Linked DNA regions of Homo sapiens. The protein of the gene in region 6 interacts with the protein of the main gene of each other region in a pairwise test. Each region holds a gene or a part of one and is shown on either strand. Other genes may lie near its edges.

Region 1 (3,500 bases), on a different chromosome or scaffold from region 6:
GACAGGACAGTCAAGGTTGGTAGGGCCTGAGGGCTGCTTTCCTCTCTCCCCACTCCCACTCCCTCAGGGCAAACTCACCACTTGGACGGTGCCCACCTTGGGCACGCTGTAACCCTTCCTCCCCAAGGGGTTCAGATCCACGATGCCCTGGAAGGCCAGGGAGCCATCAGTCAAGGTGGGGACTAGGAAAACCCTGGGCCCTAAACACATGTCCCTCTCCACAAGCTCTCACCCTGAACCTGCCCCTGCCCTACAGTAGAGTTCTCCTCACCTGGCCCTGACTCACTTCTAGGTGAGGAATAAGTAAGAAATACCTCTTGCCCCCTGGCCCCGCCCCCAAATCCTCATCCTCTTGATGAGCTGACTTTGGGGTTGGAGTCAAGGCATACCAGGAAGGGAGCCGGGGCATTTTGCTCAGAAACATCAAAGAATGTGACAGTGACAGGCAGCGTGACGTGCTGGGGGCAGTATGACCCACTAGCTCCAATTTCTGCTGTGAAGCCCTCAATGTGGCCAGATGGTGCAAAACGTCCTCGCAGCAATGATTCCTGGGATTAGGGTAGGGAAAACACATGAAGAGAGAGATGCCAATTCTTTTCCTTATCCATCCAAGCCACATTCCACCATCCCACCTCTCCCAGGACCCCGGCAATCACAAACCCCAACGGGAGCTACCTCAAAGTTGCCCAGCAGGGTACGGCTGACAGCAGGGGTAGGAACAGGGGAGGCACTGGGGGGGCTCAGCAGGCCTGGCCCCTTCCGGAGGCTTCGAAGGGGGCTCCTGGTAGAGGAAGGGAAACACAGGGGGTTGGCTTGAGGTATTCTGGGATTCCTGCTTATGCCCTTGGACTCCACCCTCTGCCACTATGTAGGGCTTCTGCCCTGGGGTCCCCTACTCGGATGCTGGAAAGAGTACAGACTTCTGCCCCCATTCTCAGGGACAGGGTAGAGGAAAAAGCTGGTCACTTACAGCTTCAGGCGACGGGCTCCTTTCAGCCTCCGCCCCATGGGACCGCAGTCTGTTGGGTCCTACGGAGAGAAATGATTGGGAAAAGACACAGGGTGAAGGCCATGTATGTTTTGGGGCAGAAGCTCATCACAAACTCTCAAAGGAACACCCTGCCCCCCAGGCCTCCACCTTTACCCACACAAATATCCACTTAAGAGTACATGAAGGACAGGCGCAGTGGCTTGAGCGCCTGTAATCACAACACTTTAGAAGGCCAAGGTGGGTCGATGATTTGAGCTCAGGAGTTCGAGACCAGCTTGGGCAACATGGCGAAACCCCATTTCTACCAAAAATACCAAAAATTAGCTGGGTGCAATGTCATGTGCCTGTGGTCCCAGATACTTGGGAGGCTGAGGTTGGAGGATCCCTTGAGCCTGGGAGGAGGAGGTTGCAGTCAGCTGAGATTGTGCCACTGCACTCCAGCAGTGATGGAGTGAGATCCCATCTCAAAAAAAAAAAAAAAAAAAAAAAAGTAAAAAAAGAGTAAATGAGGTCCTTTATTGGCTTACCAAAACAGGCTCTTTGGGCCCAGGCAGCAGGTGGCTCCAGAAGGGTGTGGCTTTGGCATCAGAACTGTTGGCAGCAGTAGGGTGGCCCAGGGATCCCCGGCGCCTCCGAGGGGCTGGCCCCTCTTCCTCAGAGCTGACATCTGGGGCTTCTCCAGCAGGAAGCAGCCTTCGCTTGGTGGGGCAGGGGCCTGGGGGTCCAGGGCCAGGGGGTGTGTGCTCGGGACTGTGCCCATTGGCAGTGCCAGGGGACTCCCTAGGCCAGAGGCTACCCCCATTGCCCACCCCAGCCACTGGGCTCTTACCCCCTATTTGTGCAAGACTGTGCAAATCAGTGTCAAGTGTGTGCAGCTGGCCTGGAGGGGCTGGCCCTGGGGACTCCCCCAGGGACCCCTGTCCCCCTGGATCTGGGGAGGCCCAGTCTCTGGTGTGCAAAGTATTGCAGGAAGCATTTGATGGGGGGCAGGGGGGACTCCAGGCCCCCGAAGTCCAAGATGAGGTGACACTACTTCTCTGTTCCACAACACAGAGGCCACGGTGGGAGAAATGCTGGCTGGCCACACCTAGTCCCAGCCCCGGTCCCTCTGGGCCTAAGAGCCCCACAGTAGATGGTTCTTCAGGGGGTAGTCCCTCTCTGGCCCCCAGCCCAGGGCCTCTCTTCAGCTCCCGGGGACCCTCAGTGGATGGGGCTTGTCGTTTCAGGGCCCTATGAGGCTCAGAGGTACCAGCCGGAGGGGAAAAGATGGATACCTGGTAGACCCCGGGGGATGTCGCCCCCCCTGCTGGGCTGTAGCCCATGAGCAGGCCACCCTGGAGGGCCCCCTGCCTGACTGGAGGCTGTGAAGGGCCAGCCTCCGGCTCTGAGGATGGAGACGGCTCCGCCTGCACGTGGCGCATGAAGCCCCCCTTGGGTCAGGGGGGCCCCCCAACACGGCCTTTATGCTGGGCCTGGGCTGGGGGGCCTGGGGACATCTGTGTAAGAGAAGAGAAGAAAAGGTGGTCAGGGGAATCAATGAGTCTTCTTCCTTCCAGCTGAGTTTCAGACCCTCTCCTTGCCTAAAGGGGTGACTTTGATGGGTTCCCAAGGATGAATGTGTACAAATCCCTGGATGGACTAATGGAATATAGAGACCACTCTCAGAACTCCTGAGAGGGTGACAGGTTTAGCTCAGGCTTCTTACTGGACACACTTCCCCCTCTTCTCCCTGGTACTTACCCCGATGAAGAGGCCTCAAGCCTAGCTGTGCGTCCCCTCTTCCCAACTGATGCCTCGTGCCCCTAGCTTGCAGTCTGATCCATGCCTGCTGCACTGGCAAGGTGACTGCCACCATTCCGTGCAGCTCCTGAGCTCAGCAGGACCCTGAGGAGAGAAGAACAGACGTAAGCCAGGATCACTGGAGCCAGCGGTAAGGCCTGTCACCAATTATAGGCTAATAGTACACTCCAGGACATCCTTCTCCCATGTGAGAGGCTCTTCAGGAACAGAAAGGGTAGGCTTGGGGTCCAGGGCACAGATGGCAGAGTTGGGCTACCTAAGGAGTCAAAGAGGCAGGTCTTGGCTCAGTATAATAAGGATGTGACAAGTGAGTTGAGGTAGAATAACTACTTGTCAGGGCCACCATTTGAGGACTCCTGCCCTACATGGAGGAAGGGATGAGAGACCCCCAAGATCCAAGAGACCGTGTCAGCTGAGAGGCGGCCAGGGGAAGAATTCAGCTTTCTTACTCAAAGCCACCAAATTGCACAACTCCTTCTTATATGTCTATCTCCAAAGGGACAAGTGCCATCCTAGGGCACTAAGGGCAGAGGTCTCCCACACAGTTATACCCCATCAGCGGTCCTCAGAGGTACAAATTTCAAGTCAGCTCAGAGCTGGCCTTTCAGCCCTGAACTCCAAATTGCCTCCAGCAGCCTGTCTCTTTAACAAGAGGCAACAAATCCGACCAAAAACAAGAAGGGGAAGGGGAAGGGGTCACTGCCAGAAG
Region 2 (3,500 bases), on a different chromosome or scaffold from region 6:
ACAGTATCCAATGGCTTATTGCTGGTACAAAGGAATATGCCCTTCCCTCTTTACAGAATTGTTGTGATGGTAGAACGAGTTAATAGAAATAAAAATTTTATAAGTGGTAAAGCAAAATACATATATATGATATTACTGAGCTCCCTTGAACATAAATTAAAGTTAACTTTAGTAAGTACTGAGGGTGGATTTTTAAAAAAAACTCTTCAAGGGTTGGTCCATCATTTTGAGATTATTAGGAATGAGTTTATATGGGTTTTCATATTAATTTAACAAATACATTATTATTGAGCTTTTACTATACATGGGTACTATTTTAGTCACTAGAGATACAGCAGTGGAAAACACTGAAAAGCAAGTAAGACAATTTTAGACAATAGCAAGTGCTACAAAGACAACACATATTGTGATAAAACTGAAAGCAAAAAGAAAAAAAAACACAAAAAGACAACACAACAGATCTTTTTCTTAATGATGGGAAGCGACTTCTTAGATTGGATGGACAGGCAAGACATCACTGAGGAAGTGACTTTTGAAGACCTCAATAATAGAGACAGTCTTGTATAAAGTTAAAGGAAGAATATTTTAGGCGGAATGTGGCAAGTGCAAAGGCCCTGAAGTAAGAACCACCTAGGTATGTCTGAGGAACAGAAATGAAGCTAGTAAGGTTTGAACACCATGACAGATTGGAAGCCCGGTAAAAGATAAGGTGGGAGTTTGAATTTTAAGTACAGTGGGAAGCCATTGGAGTTTAAATCAGTGGAATACATAAGCAAATTTACGTTTTTAAAGATCAGACCAGTAGGATGCGGCGGCTTACGCCTGTAACCACAGCACTTTGGGAGGGTAAGGCAGGCGGATCACCTGAGGTCAGGAGTTTGAGACTAGCCTGGCCAACATGGTGAAACGCCATCTCTACTACAAATACAAAAATTAGCTGGGCATGGTGGAGGACGCCTGTAATCCCAGCTATTCGGGAGGCTGAGGCAGGAGAATCGCTTGAACCCAGGAGGCAGAGGTTACAGTGAGCTGAGATTATGCCACTGCACTCCAGCCTGGGCGACAGAGCGAGACTCCAACTCAAAAAAAAAATAATAAATAAATCACACTGGCTTTCAGGATGGAAAAATGGATGGTATGGAACAAGAGGAAAAACAAGGAAATCTATTAGAAGTCTGGATTAGGATGGTAGCAGTCAAGAGTGAAAATACCTTTTCTGTTAATTCAGTTCAATATGACAGTGGCTTTTATTTTTTAGTTACCAAAATGGTGCTCAGAATGAATATATACATTAATGTATATAAATATACATGAATTTAAATACATACACTGAATTATTTGTATGATTTTCCTTTCATTAGATTGTTGAAATAATTATGTTCTATTTCTCTTTGTATCTCCACAATGCTTTGTCCATAGTAGTTAGTAAGTGAGATAGGCAACAAAAGCTTTAAGTGGAGGAGGGAGTGTGGGGGGTCTTATTTGTAAGATTTCTGCACTACAGGATAATCAATAAAACACACCTGCCGGCCCACTCGGTCAGGAGGAGGCCACAATGCATCATCCTCTTTGGTAATTTCACTGTCGTCAATTATTCTCTTCAGTTCCTCCATCACGCTTTTATGTACATAAGCCTGAACGCAAGTTAAAAAACAAAATGTATGTTGTATCCTTAAGCAGTGCTTTGACTCAGATAGTGATGGAAGATAAAAATAACTGTTCCTGCAGACTTATTTCTGGCATCTCCTTAAGTGGGAAGACATTCATGCTCAACCTCGGCATGATGCAGGTGAGGGACACGGTCAGAAGTATCCAGTAACTGCACCTCAGTCCCCTATCTAGCTGTTACTACCTCCTGGTACATCCTGTTCACATGGCCCTTCTGCCTGCCCACATACCCAACTCACAACGAAACCCAAAACAGGTCTGTGAGTGCCCCCTGCCATGGTTTGAATGTTTTTGTCTCCTCCAAAAAAATCATACTGAAATTAATCCCCAAAGCAACAGTGTTAAGAGATAGGGCCTTTAGGAGGTGATCAGGCCTTGAGGGCAGAGGCCCCAGGGATAGATTAGTGCTTTAGGAGAGAGCTTAAGGGAACTAGCTGGCCCCTTTCTTGTTCTTTCACCATATGAGGACACAGCATTCATTCCTTCTGGAGGATGCAAAAACAAGGCACAGTTGTGGAAGCAGAGACTGGGCCCTCACTAGACACTGAACTTGCCAGCGCCTTGATCTTGGACTTTCCAGCCTCCAAAATTGTGAGAAATATATTTTTACTGCTTACAAATTACCCAGTCTCAGGCATTTTGTTGCAGCAAAAAAGAGACTGCGACACCCACATGCCCTGGTTATTCTTTTTTTTTTTTTTTTTTGAAACGGAGCCTTGCTCTGTCGCCCAGGCTGGAGTGCAGTGGTGCGATCTCGGCTCATTGCGAACTCTGCCTCCTGGGTTCATGCCATTCTCCTGCCTCAGCCTCCTAAGTAGCTGGGACTACAGGCACCCGCCACCATGCCTGGCTAATTTTTTTGTATTTTCAGTACAGACAGGGCTTCACCGTATTAGCCAGGATGGTCTCGATCTCCTGACCTCGTGATCCGCCCGCCTCGGCCTCCCAAAGTGCTGGGATTACAGGTGTGAGTCACCGCGCCCGGCCAGTTATTCTTAACTAGGTAATACACTCCTGAGGAGCAAAATGTATTTTAAAAGATATGCCTGTGTAAAAAAATAGTGAGGATATTGACATGTGTGAATAAGCATAAAATCAATAGCTAAAATAACAATATGAAAATATATGCTAAGACATTTTCAAAGGTGGCAAAGTGGTTAAAAGGAAAGAGTAGCTTTGATGAAGCCTTAATGATGTAGTAGAAATCACAGAACGGAGAATACAAACTTTACTGGGGCAGGATTGGGAATTCCTGCTGTATCTCTTACTAGCAGGGGTAACTCAGAACAAGCCTCATAATTAATACCTGGGCCTTTATTTTCTTATTTGTAAGGGGGCTATAATACCCTCCCCCATCACATGGGCTTACAATCAGGGTTAAATAAGATGCCACGCCTGACATCTAACATGCATTCAATGATGTCAACTGCTTTCCCATGCTCCCTTTCCCACTCAGATGTAAATTAAATAGCTCTTCATTGTGTACCATGTACACAGGGAATATAGAGCACTTTAAATAGAACATATTTAATTTTATGACAGCACTTGGGAGTGGGAGGTAGCTTTTATTATTCCTGTTTTTACAGGTGAAGAAACAGAGATTTATCAAGTTCAGCCAGGAACTTGCCCAAGGTCACATGGGGTAGTAAGCAGCAGACTCAGGGTTCAAACCAAGGTATGTCAAAGGTTACCAGTAATTGATTCCACAATGTAAAATAAAAAAATCCCAACTAAAAGATGATTTGGGAAATAATCCAGAAGCTGTCTACAGACATGTGTCTCTCTCCCTGTTCTTTATCTTTCAATACTACTAGAAACAATAAAAACAATGC
Region 3 (3,500 bases), on a different chromosome or scaffold from region 6:
CAGAATCTGGCTGTAACTGTCTCCTTGCCAATGCTCCAGTACTCCCATTTTTCTCTGCTTCCCAGGAGCCTCTCAATATTCTGGAGACAGAAAGCTCCAGGAGACCTTGGTTTTATCCCCAAACGTCCTCTGTGGGTAAGGCTTCTCTCTCTAACCCTCCAGGTACCTTTATCCTTCTTCTTAAGCTTCTTGTTACGGGTTCCCTGCCTCAGGTATGAAAGGATCTGGGTCAGCTTGCTAATGACAATGTCATTTGTGGTCAGTGTGGTCTGGGCCTGAAAATACCAAGAAACAAGAATGTTAAACCACTCAGCAGAAATCTCTTCATTTATTCATTCATTCACTTAACAAACTAAAGACTGAATTACAATACAGTAGGTGAAGGGAGGGAAACGAAGTGCTGTGAAAGGATATTCCAGAGATAAAACAGCCTGCACAAAAGCCCTGCATCAAAATGAATCAAGACCATTCAAGAAAGTCAGGAGTCTAGAACATTCTAGAAAGGCCAGATGTTGCAGAGGCTCAAAGTCATGGTAAAGATTTTGCTCTTTATCCTAAGAATGAGATACTACTAAAAGCTTCTAAACTGTAGTGAGACAAAAATTTACATTTTATTTATTTATTTGGAGACAGAGTCTCATTCTGTCGCCCAGGCTAGAATGCAGTGGCACGATCTTGGCTCACTGCAACCTCCACCTTCTGGGTTCAAGCAATTCTCATGCCTCAGCCTTCCGAGTAACTGGGATTACGGGCACATGCCGCCACGCCTGGCTAATTTTTAGTAGAGATCAGGTTTTACAATGTTGGCCCACCTGGTATTGAACTCCTAACCTCAAGTGATCCTCACACCTCAGCCTCCCAAAGTGCTGGGATTACAGGTGTGAGCCACTGCACCCAGCCAAACTGTATATTTTAGAAGGGTAGGGGAGGTAGGGGTGGTTAATAGGTACCAAAAAAATAGAAAGAATGAATAAGGCCTACTACATGATAGCACAACAGGGTGACTATAGGCAGTAATAATTTATACATTCTAAAACAACTAAAAGAGTATAAATGGATTGTTTGTAACACAAAAGATAAATGTTTAACGGGATGGATACCCCATTTTCCATGATGTGATTATTATGCATTATATGCCTGTATCAAAACATCTCATGTACCTCATAAATATATATACCTACTATATATCCACAAAAATTTTTAAAAAAATTCTCTTTAAAGGATGAATTATATGGCATGTGAATAACACCTCAATAACAAGATATAATAACAAATCAGAGTGGAAGTGCGGAAACCAGAGTGGAAGTGCGGAAACCAATTAGAAGCCTTTTTAATAGCTCCAGAGGACTGGCGCAGTGGCTCATGCCTGTAATCCCAGTACTTTGGGAGGCCAAGGCGGATGGATCACTTGAGGTCAGGAATAGCCTAGCCAACGTGGTAAAACCCAATCTCTACTAAAAATAAAAAAATTAACCAGGTGTGGTGATGAATGCCTGTAGTCCCAGCTACTTGGAAGGCTGCGGCAGGAGAATCGTTTGAACCTGGGAGGCGGAGTTTGCAGTGAGCCAAGATAGCACCACTGCACTCCATCCTGGGTGACAGAGTGAGACTTGGTCTCTAAAAAAATAGTAAGTTAATAGTTCCAGCAAATGATTATAGCTTAGACTGGAATGTTATTGGTGAAAAAGTGGAAAAGTGAATGGATTCAGTTGAGATTTAGGAGGTAAAAGTGAACAGCACTTGGTGACATGGTGGACAAGGGACACGGGGCAGAGGCCAGGCTGATTCCCAGGCTTGAGGCTCACATGATAGGCTCTCAGGATTCCATTCACTCACCTCCATGGTGGGGCAATCAGCCTTGCTGCGGATAAGAGTGGTGGGGATATCTGTGTCAGCATACTCATCATCCAGGTCTACCACATAGGCCATGCGGCCCGGCAGGAACAACTCATTCCGCTCATATGCTTTGCTCTTAAAAAGCATTCGGTAAACATTGCGGCCTACAATAAGGAGAAGAGCAGCAAGTAGCCAGGATCTACAAGAACAGCTGTCACTTATGTGCTTACTCTGTGCTAGCCACCATGCCAAGTGCTATGCAAGCTTTGCGTCATTTAATCTTTGCAACAGCCCTATGAAGTGGATATTATTATCCTTTTTACTGATAAGAATACTATGGCTGAGATTTAAGTAATTTACCTAAAGTCATGTATCTACTAAGTAATGGAGCAAAGAATGGAACCAGGCCATGTAACTCCAAAGCCTGGGCTCCTGTCCACTCTTCTACATTGCCTCTTCAAGGGCACTATGCACCTGTATTGTATTAAGTCCTGTGAGGAAGAAGGATGAAGTTTAAGGTAATATTGATGATGATGGAAAAAACAGCTCTACTACCTGCTCAATATGATAGGCATGTTATAGATTTCATTTTTCTTCATCCCTACAATAAAGTCATGTGGTAAATAGTAACCCAATTTTTACAGATGAACAAACAGCAAAGTCAGTTGCCTAAAATCATACACTTAGTGCTGTTTCATCATCAAGGTTTAAACTCAGGTCTCTCTGACTCCAAGTTTTGAACTTTTAATCACTAACCATGTTACTTCTTTTAACTCATAAGCCCCAAACTGAAAAATCTTTCAATCTACCTGAGGAGACATAAATGACATATGAAATAATTAAATCTATGTCTGAGTCTTATTAGAGTATTTTATGGGAGTTAGTTGTTTTGGGGGCAAGAAAGAATCCCAGCTCTTTGGGAGGTCAAGGCAGGAGGATCACTTGAGCCCAGGAGTTTGAGACCGGCCTGGGCAATACACAGAGAACCCCATCTCTGCAAAAAATAAAAAAAAAAATTAGCTAGGTATGGTGGCACATGCCTGTGGTGCCAGCTACACAAGAGGCTGAGTCCAGGAGGTCAAGGCTGCACTGAGCCATGATCACACCACTGCACTCCAGCCTGGGCGATTAAGTGAGACACTGTCTCAAAAAGAAAGAAAGAAGAAAGGAGGTTGGGGGAAAGGAGAAGCATATCCTTCCCAGAGCATTAAATTCCGTACAATTCATCCAGAATGCATAGTCACTAGTATAGAAACTGTACTCACCCAGACGTGTTTTAAATTCAATTTTATTTTCAGGATCCTCATCTTTCCTGAAAAGACAAAAAAGTTTTATTTTTGCTAAATGTGCTCTAACTTTAGGTCCCACCTTTCTAAATTCTCAACCTTTCCATAATATTTACTTACTTGGTTTCTTTCTGGGGCTTTTCCATCAGTTCCTCTTCCTCTTTCTCTTTGCTGGCAATCTCAGCTCGTACCTAACAGGAAAGCAAGCAGGGTTAGGACACTCATTTTATATATTTATTGAACATCCACTACACCACACTGTACCAGGAACTAAGAATATAATATTAAACATGACAGATATTGTTCTTACTCTAATGGAGCTTATAGCAGATGAGACAGACAAATTAAACAATTTCAACAAAGTACAATAACTGCTGT
Region 4 (3,500 bases), on a different chromosome or scaffold from region 6:
GGCCTAGAGGAACGGCGAACACTGTTGGGTGAATCACAAATCAGTTAGTGGCACCCTTTCTGCAGGACAATTTGGCAATCTATGTCAAAGGCCTTCAAAATCTGTCTAACCTTTGATGCTGGAGCTCCACTCTTGGGATGTAACGTTAAGAAATAAGGAGATGGCCTGATGCCCATGAAGCCTCCGCTGCAGGGCCGAGCACCCAGCAGGCATGGCAGAGCTATGCGGCTTCCCCGACACCTTGGTGTTAACAGAACGGAGGGGCATTGCACACCGGGATGCTCTGGGGGTTGGGAACGATCTAGCTGATTACTTGGACACTTGTTTATGATACATTAAGTTAGAAAAACAGGTTATAGATCATGTACCTTTTAAAGAATGGGCTTGGATAAAGCAAACACAAGCCAGGAGTAAAGATTAGAAGGCCACACAGGAAGAGTCAGCAGCAACAGTCTCCAAGGACTTGAACTACTGTGATATTTAACATCTTTTTGCTTGTAGAATGAACGTGTTTTGCTAAAAAGGACAATAGTTTATCACCACTATATCCCCTACACAGTAGCTACTCAAGGAATGTCTGCTGAATGAATGGGCAAACAAAGAGAAGGAATAAAATGTTGTTGTAATCATGCTAGTTAGTGGGGTTTGGCAGATAGAAATCCCCTTGCCAGAAGCTAACGTTAATAATGAATAGATAACAGATTTCATTATACTCTCTACCTCCATGACAGCAACGTTTTTAGCTCCCCCAGATGAATGAGAAAATGCCATGTTTGTCTTTCTGTGCCTGGCTTAGTTCACTTAACATGAGGGCCTCTAGTTCCATCTATGTTGCTGCAAATGTCAGGGTTCTATCCTTTTTGATGGCTGCATGGTATTCCACTGTGTACAGCACCACATTTTCTCTGTCTATTCATCCACTGAAGGACACTGAGGTTGATTCGACCTCTTGGCTATTGTGAAAGATCCATGGCTAAGACCTCAAAAGCACAGGCAACAAAAACGAAAACAGGCAACTGGGACTCTGCTCAACTAAAAAGCTTCTGCACAGCAAAGGAAGAGAATCACCAGAGTGAAGAGACGACCTGTGGGAAGGGGAAACATGTGCAAGCCATTCATCCGACAAGGGAGCAGTATCCAGAACATGCGGGAACTCCAGCAACTCACCAGCAAAACCTGAAGCAGCCAGTATAAAAGTGGGCCAAGGATCTGAAGAGACATTTCCCCAAAGACATATGACTGGCCATTGGGGATAGGAAGAAACGCTTCTCCTGACAAACACTTACACTCAGGCTGTTCCTACAGAACAGAAAGCCCGGCCTTCTCACTTAGGAGCAAACTCACGGCGCACCTCGCCCCAGAGGAAACCCTGCAACTCCCTTTAGATTTGCTCACATATTACATTGTGTAAGGAATGATTAAAGGGCTACTGAGGAAAACATTTTTCCTAGGCAATTTTTTTTTTGTCAAAAGTTAAAGAATTATCAGTAAGTTATGCTGTAGAGGAAATGCTTGTGTTATCATTTGGGAACAAAATAAGGAGACGTTCTAATGTTTGCAAAGTTTTCATTTCCTTTGTAAGCAAGGTTTTTTTTAAGCCCATTTCTGGAACTAAAGGAGGCTTCTGAGAATTTGTTCCTTGGAGATGCCGACTGGTCCACCTGAGAAATCGCAGGGCGTTCTGGCATCTGCTGCCTCGGGGCCGAGCCCTGCGGGAGGCATTCTGAGGCTGGCGCCCCCGGACCGCATCTCAGCATGTGCTCAGAGGGAAAGTCCGCGGGCCTGAGGTCAGAGCATCCAGGCACGCGTGTAAATAACAGCAGCAGCGGCCACAGAGGAGCTGTCCCCTTACGCACCTGGGCGACTTCCTCTCACTCTCTGAGCCCTGCCTCCTCCCTGTAGAGGAGGTGCCGGCACACTGGGCTTCCCTGGCCTGTAGAGGAGGAGGTGCCGGCACTCTGGGCCTCCCTGGCACTGTAGAGGAGGAGGTGCCCGGCACACTGGGCTTCCCTGGGTCCAGGGGGCCTTCAAGGTACAGTAGTGTTTCTAGGGACCCCAGGGTGAACAGAAAAGGCAGTGCTGAGAGCCAGGCTGGGAGGCCCCTGCTCCCCCCACATCCTCATCCACTCGAGACACCCCCTCTGACGGGCAAGCTCACTACACTCTGCACCACGTGAGAACGGAGAGCCAGCCCCTGGCCATGAAGCACAGGTGTTCTCACAGACCCGTCCAACTCTAGAGATACTGAAACCCAGAAAGGGCGCCTGGGTGTGATCCAACATGCAAAGGCTGCCCGTGCCCACTCTAATGAACATCTGATGTGGAACATGAACAATGGCACCTCTTGGTATTTCCTGTAACTCCTTCTACATGTTCTATTAATTTCCAGTAGCTTCATTTACGTATCGTGATTTCTAAAAATTAACACAGAACTGGAATGATGCAGACCCACCCAAACAAGGCACTGTTCCAATATTAACTACCATGTACATAAGTGCCTCATTTTAAATAAAAACATGTATCTAGGACCACAATCAACAAGATGCAACCAGTGTTAACCTCAGGGCAGGAAGTAATTTCTAGGTTGCATTATAAGGCTTATTACTGGTAGACCTCAGCTATGACCACAGCCATACAGAGGACTGTTAAAACTTCTAATCATCTAAATAAGTACTGAAGTTGGCAGGCTGAAGAAGACAGGTAATAAAAGAAATCGATGTATGAAGTAGAAAGAGTAAGAGAAATTGGGGATTAAGCAGCCTGGAGACAAAGGGCAAAATTCGTTCTGAGCAGTAATTCTAGTCTCTAAAAATGTTTATACATAAACGGTCTTGAAATTTGAAATGAAAATGCTAAACACTCATGCCTCTGTATCCCAGCTAAGATTTGCCAATCCTTTGGAAGGGCAGGATTCATTTCTAAATATTTAAGAAGGAAAGTCAATAACTATATTTAATAAATTATAGCCTTCTGTAAGTTGGAGAGAATTCAGAAAGAACCTCCCACTCAGTAGAACTCTGCCCCATGAAGCAGACACAGCATTTCCAGCTCAACTCATCAGAAAACTCACTGCTAAAGCGTACCCCTCCCACCCCTGCCCTGCAGTCAGGCCCACCCAGGCCCAGGGCACCACTCAGCCTGCGGGACTGCCTCTCTCTGCCTCTCTCTTCTTCCCCGTGCTCTGGGGGTGGCCTCTCCTTGTCAGTGGGGCATTGTGTGGAGTGTGGGGCAGGTCCTTGCTGCCTGCCTGGTTCTGTCCCTGGGCCTGGCACAAGGCGCTCGGGACACGTGTGGGATAAAGGCAGGGGGCGCAAAGGAGCTCAAGGAACACGGAGCGAGGTCCTCGGACCTGCTGCCCTGGAAAGCCTCCGAGTATGGTCAGTGTGCGACTCGGCCAGCCTGGGCGCCACTCCTCCCTGCCTTGCCACTCAGCTCCTGCGTCTCTGACATCTTTCCCACCTAGGGACTCCAAGCGTCCCCTGACTCCTCTCTAGCTTGCC
Region 5 (3,500 bases), on a different chromosome or scaffold from region 6:
ATATACATATATTTTGAGACTGAGTCTTGCTCCGTTACCCAGGCTAGAGTACAATGGCATGATCTCAGCTCACTGCAACCTCCGTCTCCCGGGTTCAAGCAATTCTAGTGCCTCAGCCTCCCAAGTAGATGGGATTACAGGCGTGCGCCACGACGCCCAGCTAATTTTGTATTTTTAGTAGAGACAGGGTTTCACTGTGGTCAAGCTGCTCTCGAACTACTGATCTCAAGTGATCCACCTGCCTCAGCCTCCCAAAGTGCTGGGATTACACGTGTGAGCCACCACACGTGGCCACAAAGAATATTTTTTAAAGACTAATATTTTAAAAGATGAACTACTAGATAGAAAAAAAATACTTTCTATGTAAAAAAGAAAAAAAAAAAAAAAACTGGCCAGGCACAGTGGCTCACGACTATAATCCCAGCACTTTGGGAGGCCGAGGTGGGTAGATCATCTGAGGTCAGTAGTTTGAGACCAGACTGGACAACATGGCAAAATCCTGTCTCTACTAAGAATACAAAAATTAGCCAGGCATGGTGGCGCACACCTGTAATCTCAGCTACTTGGGAGGCTGAGGCAGAAGAACCGCGTGAACCCAGGAGGCAAAGGTTGCAGTAAGCCGAGACCATGCCACTGTACTCCAGCCTGGGTGACAGAGCTAGACTCCATCTTAAAAAAAAAAAAAAAAAAAAGCCTGGGTGTGGTGGTTCACACCTGTAATCCCAGCACTTTGGGAGGCCGAGGTGGGCAGATCATAAGGTCAGGAGTTTGAGAACAGCCAGGCCAATATGGTGAAACACCATCTCCACTAAAAATACAAACATAAGCCGGGCGTGATAGTGGGTGCCTGTAATCCCAGCCGCTCAGGAGGCTGAGGTGGGAGAATCGCTTGAAGCCGGGAGGCGGAAGTTGCAGTGAGCTGAAATTGCGTCACTGCACTCCAGCCTGGGGGACAGAGCAAGACTCCGTCTCAAAAAAAAAAAAGAAAAAGAAAATAGCCAAGTATGGTGGTGTCCACACGCAGTCCCAGCTATTCGGGAGGCTGAGACAGGAGGGTGGATTGAGCCTGGGAGGTGGAGGCTGCAGTGAGCCATGTTCATGCCACTGCACTCCATCCTGGTTGACAGAGACAGACCTCAGCTCAAAAAAAAGGGAGGGTGAAGAAGAAGACATGTTCACGTATATTTGTATATACACAAACTACCTCTAGAAGTATATAAAAAGTAATTTTAAAAAACTTCCAAAATTTAACTTTTTTTTGAGATAGGGACTCACTCTGTTGCCTAGGCTGGAATGTAATGGCTTGATCACAGCTCACTGTAGTCTCAAACTCCTGGGCTCAAGTGATCCTCCCATCTCAATGTCCCAAGTAGCTAGGACAACAAGCTCGAGCCACCATGCCTAGCCAATTTTTAAGTATTTTGGAGAGACAAGGTCTCACTATGTTGCCCAGGCTGGTCTTGAACTCCTGGGCTCAAGCAATCCTCTTGTCTTGGCCTTCCAAAGCACTGGAATTATGGACATGAGCCACTGTGTTGGGTCCAATTTAACTTTTTTTTTTTTTTTTGCGTTTAGGAGTGGAGGTTTAATAGGCAAGAGAAAGAGAAAGGAAAATAGTTCTCTCTCTAGTGAGAGAGAGGGGTCTTCTGAGAGGAAATGGCCCCAGTTTAGCATTTTTAAGTGGGAGAAATAACAAAAAAACAGAGGCAGGGACAAAACAGAGCCAGGAATAGGGTAAAATCTCCTACAGAACCAATGAGAGAAGGCATGTAAACTTAAAGAGAAGGTATACATTTCACTCTAAGCCTTCTTCCAGCAGATAACACAAAAAGGGAGACCATATCAGTTAAACAGACGCAGCGTTCATCAGAAAAAAAAAAAAATCCAATTGCTCATGAAATTAGTTATACTATTCTCGGTACTAAGAATAGAGGGGATTTTTCTCCCTCTGGATCTGTCTAAAGAGAACACTGAATGGTGCTGTCAACATTGTCTCTACAACAGCTACAACAATGAGCAATCATTATTTCCCCTAGGGTATGGTCACTGTCATATGACAATATTAAACATTTTGACTTTGCAGCCACCATGTCTTTTGTCTTAAGCTGATCACAACCTTACCTTGGTTCCATTTGGTGTTGCAGGGGAGGCTGGGGAAAAGGCAGAGCTTGCGTCAGGAGATTTGGGAACAAATGAGGGTTGATCTAGGGCTGAAGCTGACGTAGAGGATGGCGAAGTCTCAGACAGAGGTTGGTTCTCCTGCATATGGGGTAGGACGTGCTCTACCACCCATCCAGAATAAGAAGATAGCTTGGGAAGAGACATACATTCTTCTAAAACATCCTAGAGAAAAGAATAGGGTTAAGCTCAACTTACACGTCAACTGTTCTCAGTATAATCCACTACATGCCTTACTGAACATCTAAGAAGGCCTAAATAAATAAACATCAAAGACCCAAAGTAATGTATTAACAATCAGATGAAAACAAAGTACAGTGGTTTCTTGATAATGACCTAGACTACTATCCTTCTAATGAAAATCAGACTAAATAACCCTAACTACAGAAAAAGGGACAATGCACAAAGATTCCCACTAAAGCATATGTGAAAGCAATCTAAAGCACTGAACAGAACACGAGGAATTCTGAAGTAAGCTACTGTATACACAATCAGTAGAATGTCAGTCACTTAACAATGGGGGTAAGTTCTGAGAAACACAGGGTTAGGTGATCTTGTCATTGTGCGAGTATCGTAAAGCATCCTTACACAAACCTAGATGTATATATTTTTTCATTTTTAAAATTAATTATTTTTGAGACAGGGTCTCACTCTGTTACCCAGGCTGGAGTGCAGTGACCTAATCATGGCTCACTGTAGCCTGACCTCCTGGGCTCAAGCTATCCTCCCACCTCAACCAGTCTCCCCAGCAGCTGGGAGTACAGGCATGCGCCACTATATTCAGCTAATTATTTTTTCATTTTTTATAGAGATGGAGTCTTGATATGTTGCCCAGGCTGGTCTTTTTTTTTTTTTTTTTTGAGATGGAGTTTCGCTCTTGTTGCCCAGGCTGGAGTGCAATGGCACGATCTTGGCTCACCACAACCTCCACCTCCCAGGTTCAAGTGATTCTCCTGCCTCAGCCTCCTGAGTAGCTGGGATTACAGGCATGCACCACCATGCCTGGCTAATTTTGTACTTTTAGTAGATACGGGGTTTTCTCCATGTTAGTCAGGCTGGTCTCGAACTCCTGACCTCAGGCGATCCACCCGCCTCAGCCTCCCAAAGTGCTGGGATTACAGGCGTGAGCCACTGTGTGCCCAGCCTTTTTTTTGAGATGGAGTCTTGCTCTGTCACCCAGGCTGGAGTGCAGTGGCACGATCTCAGCTCACTGCAACCTCCACCTCCCGGGTTCAAGCAATTCTCCTGCTTCAGCCTCCCGAGCAGCTGGGATTACAGGTGTCGACCACCACACCCGGCTAATTTTTGTATTATTACTAGAG
Region 6 (3,500 bases):
CCTTCTTGGGGGCTACAATCAGAGTGTTCTCTTTCTCCTCCAGACTCTAGAGCACAAGTTATCTGCATCATTCACTCAGAACTTCAACCGGTAATCTATTTTTATGTCACTCATTTCCTTTAACGATATAAATGATTACATTTTGTTTCATATTTTTTAGTATATTTTGTCTAATTAGTCTGAATCTTGTGTTCATCCCATAATGGCTTAGCATGATAAACGATCAATAACTATCCATTAGTGTGATTCTTCCCTTTGTCTTCTTCCTCTTCTAGTCTTTTCTTCTAGGAAGGCTAGGGCTTTTTCTAGTCCATCCCTTCTGAGATGAAGAAAGGTGGAGTCAGCACTGTTTCCTCCTACTGGGAGAACCCTCTGACAGGCAGTGATTGAGGAAATACCATGATTTACACTATTACTAATTATTTTACACTCTTCTGAGATACAGACTGGAGGAACTCCGGTCTATAAAGTAAGTATATTAATCTAGCACTGTCACTCAATCAAAATGTTTATGTATTGTATAGCTCTGTCTGAGCCCTATATAAAAAGGGAAGTCGAAATTTAAAAAAAATTAACATCACCACCCCCAATTTTGTTGTCTTGGAATATAATATTCTGCTTCATTCCTTTTAACAAATATTAATTGAGCACTCATTCATCAGGAGGATCTTGGGGACATATCAGAACAAATAAAAACACTGTCTTCATGGAGCTTATACATTCTTAACAGATATCTTCTGCATCATTTGTACTTCATGTAATAAGACTTATGTTGCAAACACTGTTATTGAATCACATTTTCATTAACAGGCATATGCTATGTATTATATTAGTTACTAATAAATCTAAAGTGTAAAGGGCAAAGAAGTTAAATACTACTGATTTCAACTATTTACCTTTCAGCAAACTAGTTAACAAAAACTGAAAAAACCTGAAGCTATGCAATAAATACACAATAACTCTATAAATAAAATGTGGTCTTCCATGAAGAGATAGGATAGGGAAGGGTAGCGTTGGCTGCTAGCTTACTATCTGTTCTAGAGAATAAGCAGAAATGGAGATAAGCTCAGTTCTGAGAGACAGAAAATAAAGTGTGAAGAGAGAGAAAATATCCCCAATTATAATAAAATGAAGGATAAGACATTATATCTGAAGAGGGATAAGGGCCAGGAAAATCGCAGCATGGAGATATGAAAAGGAGGCAGATGAAGGTAGAACAGGGAAGGGCCTAGAAGTACAAAGTGGATCCACTATAGATTTTCAATAAGGAAACTAACCCCAAAATTTCTTGTTTGGTAGAATCTTAGAGGAGGTAAAGCTTACAGTAATGACAACATCAAATAGACAGTACCTAAAATAGATATGTAAGTAGGAAGATTTCGGTTTTAGATAATAAGCTTTTTTAGCTTTAGAGTTAACACACAAACAAAAAAATTAAACCCTATTTAATTTTTAGCCCTGAATTAAGTCCTATTAATAAAGCACATAGAGTCCAATAGATGTTCAAAGCATATAATCATAGTCAACCCCTTACCTTTAAGGATGTCAGTTGATCTGCCCACATTTCTATTACAGGAACAAGATGCTCAAATCCACAATCTTGAACAAGATCTTTATTAAAATTTTGGACTCCCCCTTTGGTCTGTTTATAAATTATTACTGGAGCTCTTGGATTGTGGATAATTGAATTGATGCTACACAGCACCTTTAAAAAAACATAGTGTATATAGTCAAAATATTTATCCTATGCCTACAAAGTTATATATTTTAAAGGAGTGCTTTATGTCTATATATATTATATACACATATTTCATTAAATATACAAAGAAAATTATCATAAGGAATTGGCTCATGCAATTATGAAGACTGACAAGTCCCAAGATCTGCAGTGAGTAAGCGAAGACCCAGAAAAGGTAATGGGTATTTGCAGTCCAAATGCAGGCAGACTGAGACCCCTGCAAGTGCTAATGTTTCAGTTTGAGTCTGAAGGCAAGAAAAAAACCAGTGTCCCATCTTGAAAGCAGTCAGGGAGGAGGAGCTCCCTCTTATTCAGCCTTTTGTTCTACTCAGGGCTTTGAATCATTGGATGAGGCCCACCCCATTAGGAAAGGCAGTCTGATTTACTAAAGTCTACTGATTCGGATGTCAATCTCATCCAGAAGCACCTTCCCAGACACATCCAGAATAATGTTTAACCAAATATCGGGCATCCTATGCCGCAGTAAAGTTGAAACAAAATTAACTATTACAAACACTACCTAGGTTCAAAAATTGTTAGTATTTTGCCATATTTGCTCACTATCTATATTTTTAGGTGAACCATTTGAAGAAACTCTTCACCCTCAAATAATAAAGCATGCATCTTTTAAAAGTAGGCATATTCTCCTACAAACTCACAAGAACATTATCAGACTATTTAAGGAAATTAACAGCAATCCCCAGGCTGAGTGTGGTGGCTCATGCCTGTAATCCCAGCACTTTGGGAGGTTGAGGCAGGAGGATCACTTGAGCCCAGGAATTCAAGGCTGCAGTGAGCTATGATAATGCACTTCAGCCTGGGCAACAGAGCAAGACCCTGTCTCCAAAAATAATATCATTGATGCCTGGATTGAATTTTAGGTATCTTAATATATTAAGATAGTATACTATTTGACTATAACCCTCTCCCCATAAGTGATGGGTTCTACCTTACATATCATCCGAGGAAAAAAAGGGAGACCTCAAAAAGCATGTTTAAAGAGAGAAGAATAAAGCCATTTCCTATTACCACCATCAAGTTCAGCCTATTTAATAAAAAGTTTCACAATATAAAGATAGCATTTTGCTCTTGAATCTTTGTCCCTGGTCATACTTCAAGATATAACTAATAGGCCTCCTGGTAATATGACTTAAGATGTTTATTACTTCAGATGTTTATTTAGAAGCTTTTTAAGTCCAAATTAGTATAATTCAATATTTCACTTCAAATTGATGTATGTATATTTGTTTTATATATTTATTTGACAGAGTCTCACTCTGCAGCCTAAGATGGAGTGCAGTGGTGTGAACGGAGCTCACTGCAGCGTTGAATTCCTGGGCTCAAGTGATCTTCCCATGTCAACCTCTCAAGTGCTAGGACTACAGGCACAAGCCACCATGCCCAGCTAATTAAATTTTTTTTTTTCTAGAGATGTGGTCTCACTATATTGCCCAGGCTGGTCTCAAACTCCTGCCCTCTAGCAATCCTCCTGCCTCGGTCACCCAAAGTGTTAAGATTACAGGCATGAGCCACCATACCCGGCTTGAATTCCCCTTTTAAAGGACAAAGCCTCTCAAATTGAGTCTCAGAAACAAAATGAAATCCAGTTATATACTGGTACAAGAAAGTCTAAAACAAAACAGTTTTCAGAAAGGTGCTTGGTTCCCATTTACAATAGCAATAAAAGTTATAAAATACCTAGGAAATAACAAGGTATTTCCTAACAAGAAATATGCAAGAGCTAAATTTAAAAATACACAAC
Region 7 (3,121 bases), on a different chromosome or scaffold from region 6:
GCAACTTCCACCTCCTGGGTTCAAGCGATTCTCCTGCCTTGGCCTTCAAGTAGCTGGGATTACAGGTGCCTGACACCATGCCTGGCTAATTTTTATATATTTTTTAGTAGAGACAGGGGTTCACCATGTTGGCCCATGCTGGTCTCAAACTCCTGACCTCAGGTGACTGCCAGTCTCAGCCTCCCAAAGTGCTGGGATTAGAGGCATGAGCCACCATGCCCAGCGAATACAGATCTTTTTGTACACCCTTCTACACAATCACATGCTCCAAGAAACACCATGTCCTTTTCTTCCTCTCCTGTAAGACAAAATTTTAAGAAGAAAATTTGTCTGAGGAATCAGTCCTCCGCCAGTCCTTATTTGCAATGTCTGGCTAACTGTCAACCTGTGGGTCCGTCTCCCAACCTACAGGACCTCATATCCCTCCCTTCTCAAATGCCTACCTCTTCCCTTCCCTTCCCCACCCCACACCAGACAACAGGCAGAGATAAACACAGTCATCAGCTCCTTAAACTTGATTTTATTGTAATCATCGCCATCAGTGGTGATGATTTGTCCAATTTGGTTTCTCCATGTGTGACTAATCCTCCCCACTGTCCTGTGAAGATCCTTCAGATAAGCCTAGGTCTTCATCCTCCTGTGAGGATCCTTCAGATGAGTCTAGATCTTTGTCCTCCTTTGAAGGTCCTTCACATGGGCCTAGGTCTTCATCCTCATTTGAAGATCCTTCAGATAAGTCTACGCCTTCGTCCTCCTCCTTTTGGATTGGATTGATGGAGTTCTCTTGGGACTGTTCATTCTCCAGTTGATTTGAATTTATTTTCTTACCCTTCCTGAGGTAATACACAAATATTATTGGATATTCTGATGTTTTTGTGTTCTTCAAACTCTGTTCGGGGGCTAAGACTCTGTTTGGTACCTCTTGCATCTGGTAAGAAAATAGGGAGAGGCCAGAAAGACATTATTTTGGGTGAATAGGATAGAGACTAGATAGCAAGGGGGGCTTTATGAGAAGGAATGCAGGTGGAGGAAGGGGTGTGTGCCAGAGAAGAACAAGGTGAAATCATAGGGTAGGTATCTATGCAGAAGAAGAAGAGGAGCATGGGTAGAGTCACCTGTTAGTCCAAACTGCATGATTTTGTAAGTTTTTGCTATGTTGCAGACCTTGGTCAAAGTGAAACATTCCATGGGGGTTCAGGCCATGAGCAACATCCTGCCTAACCACCTGACCACAAGGTGGACAAAGGCTCAACTAAAGAAACATCCCTATCATAAGTCCTGTTCCCCTTATTCTTTCATCTTCTCCAGCCCTGGGCTAACCTCCAGATATTGATTAAACTCTCCATCTTATTTTTCCTTCATTCCCCTTTCCAGGCAGCTGCAAAGGAACACCACAATGATATTCCACTGGAAAAAGGGCCAAACCACCTGATCATAAGAACATCTTATCAATATCCTCCTGGGCAGCAAGCCATACTGCCCAGCTCCCTCCCACCCATACCTGTAAGTACCCCAGGCTATAAGCGGCAGTGGGCTCTGGCATTAAGCTGGTCCCCCACTTCCACAGGTGTCTGCAATATTCCTGTGTTGTTGTTTGAGATGCACCCTCTCTGTCTGTCTTTCTTTCACCCTCATCTTCCCTTCAAAACCTAACACTTTGGTGCCAAAACCCAGGACGGTGATTGGGTTCTAATGGGTAAGTTTTCTCTTGCAACCTGGAAAGCAGAAAGCAGCAAGCAGCACAAACTAGACCGGGGCCTACTTCCAGATCCTGAGTGGACTGTCTGTTCCCAGTCCTGTTTCCCCTATTCTCTCATCTTCTCCAGCCCTGGACTAACCTCCAGATATTGATCAAACTCTCCATCTTATTTTTCCTTCCTTCCCCTTCCCAAGCAGCTGCAACCAGGATCACCCCCATTGCTGGACATCACATCCAACACTGGGCTTCAATTCGTGGGTGAGTCTCCCTATTCTTCCTTTCTGGATTCCTTTCTATTTCTGCTTGTTCTCCAAAAAAATTCCAGTGCTGGGTGAGAGGTCTCCCCAGTCACCAGGTGACTGCAGCCTCCCTTCTCAGGGGACAGCCTCAGAACACTTGCCATTCTGGCCGCTCCGTCCTCTGGGGAGCATGAATAGCTATGGGGCTGTCCCAACTCTCCAGGTCCCTTCTCCCAGGTGGAATCCAGTACTCACTTTCCTCTGGGGTATTCACTTCCCTCTGGAGAACTCACTCCCCTCTGGGGTATTCACTCCCTTCTGGGGTACTCACTTTCCCCAGAGTATTCACTCCCATCCAGAGTATTCACTCCCCTCTTCTAAAAAACAAAACATTCAACTTTCAAATTCAACATCATCTAAAAATCTTTCTCCAACACAATGGTAAATGATCTGAAGTGCTTTGCTTATCTCCGCTCATGCCTCACTCACTCTCCTGCCAATCTTGTTCACCTTTTCAAATCTTCCTCCTCAAGGAGAAACCCCCCAAAATGCCTCCTCCTCGGGACAAGCCTTCCTCCTCTGAATTTCAACCTGGCCAACAAACCCCTTCGTCTGGCTCCTGCCCTCTCCCATTCCCTCCACCTTCTCCTTCGGATCCGGCTCCTCCACCCCCTTACTGTCACCCTCCATCCCCCTTCCTTCTCCACCTCAAACCAGGTCTCACGCCCAACGCTCTTTTGCCGAAAACCAGACACATGCCCAAAGGCCTTCCAAAGTCTTTCCCTTGCAGGAGGTTGCAAGGACTGAAGGCATAATCTGAATTCAAGTTCCCTAGCTGACTTCTCCCATACTGAAAAGAGACTTTGCTCCTTTTCAATGGATCCTACCTCCTTCCTCAAGGAATGTCTGTACTTCCCTAAATCTTATGACCTTACCTGGCATGACATATATGTCATCCTCTCCTCTACCCTCACCCTGGAGGACAGGGAACACATATTTACGGGTGCCCAGGTCCATGAGAACACCCTCCACCAACAAGATGCTGCTCATAACCCAGTAGGGACCCTAGCTGTCCCCAGAACTGACCTCAATCGGAATTATCAGGCAACTTCTGTAGACAGGCAGAAACCAGGCCATATGATATCATGCCTTCTAGCTGGCATAAATAAAGTCGCCCCTGCTC

Evidence for each region.
Region 1: the proteins of CEP70 (region 6) and ATOSB interact in binary tests that used the Homo sapiens proteins (3 or more experiments, as listed by UniProt).
Region 2: the proteins of CEP70 (region 6) and MAGOH interact in binary tests that used the Homo sapiens proteins (3 or more experiments, as listed by UniProt).
Region 3: the proteins of CEP70 (region 6) and IK interact in binary tests that used the Homo sapiens proteins (3 or more experiments, as listed by UniProt).
Region 4: the proteins of CEP70 (region 6) and HDAC4 interact in binary tests that used the Homo sapiens proteins (3 or more experiments, as listed by UniProt).
Region 5: the proteins of CEP70 (region 6) and GLE1 interact in binary tests that used the Homo sapiens proteins (3 or more experiments, as listed by UniProt).
Region 7: the proteins of CEP70 (region 6) and SPANXN3 interact in binary tests that used the Homo sapiens proteins (3 or more experiments, as listed by UniProt).

Annotation. Positions count from the first base shown.
Region 1 is NC_000009.12:35,105,863-35,109,362, forward strand, and holds part of ATOSB (atos homolog protein B), read right to left. Parts: exon of another isoform or gene 3,343-3,500; intron 2,876-3,342; 5' UTR 2,732-2,875; intron 2,488-2,731; 5' UTR 2,413-2,487; coding exon 1,519-2,412; intron 1,030-1,518; coding exon 971-1,029; intron 782-970; coding exon 676-781; intron 549-675; coding exon 390-548; intron 148-389; coding exon 79-147; intron 1-78. UniProt on the Homo sapiens protein: Transcription regulator that may syncronize transcriptional and translational programs.
Region 2 is NC_000001.11:53,232,019-53,235,518, forward strand, and holds part of MAGOH (protein mago nashi homolog), read right to left. Parts: intron 1,635-3,500; coding exon 1,524-1,634; intron 1-1,523. UniProt on the Homo sapiens protein: Required for pre-mRNA splicing as component of the spliceosome. Plays a redundant role with MAGOHB as core component of the exon junction complex (EJC) and in the nonsense-mediated decay (NMD) pathway.
Region 3 is NC_000005.10:140,654,329-140,657,828, reverse strand, and holds part of IK (protein Red), read right to left. Parts: intron 3,314-3,500; coding exon 3,243-3,313; intron 3,149-3,242; coding exon 3,102-3,148; intron 2,001-3,101; coding exon 1,837-2,000; intron 276-1,836; coding exon 167-275; intron 1-166. UniProt on the Homo sapiens protein: Involved in pre-mRNA splicing as a component of the spliceosome. Auxiliary spliceosomal protein that regulates selection of alternative splice sites in a small set of target pre-mRNA species. Required for normal mitotic cell cycle progression.
Region 4 is NC_000002.12:239,135,521-239,139,020, forward strand, and holds part of HDAC4 (histone deacetylase 4), read right to left. Parts: intron 1-3,500. UniProt on the Homo sapiens protein: Responsible for the deacetylation of lysine residues on the N-terminal part of the core histones (H2A, H2B, H3 and H4).
Region 5 is NC_000009.12:128,507,719-128,511,218, reverse strand, and holds part of GLE1 (mRNA export factor GLE1), read right to left. Parts: intron 2,344-3,500; coding exon 2,122-2,343; intron 1-2,121. UniProt on the Homo sapiens protein: Required for the export of mRNAs containing poly(A) tails from the nucleus into the cytoplasm. May be involved in the terminal step of the mRNA transport through the nuclear pore complex (NPC).
Region 6 is NC_000003.12:138,503,761-138,507,260, forward strand, and holds part of CEP70 (centrosomal protein of 70 kDa), read right to left. Parts: intron 1,706-3,500; coding exon 1,535-1,705; intron 118-1,534; coding exon of another isoform or gene 76-117; exon of another isoform or gene 1-75.
Region 7 is NC_000023.11:143,508,235-143,511,355, forward strand, and holds the end of SPANXN3 (sperm protein associated with the nucleus on the X chromosome N3), read right to left. Parts: intron 929-3,121; coding exon 581-928; 3' UTR 501-580; downstream 1-500.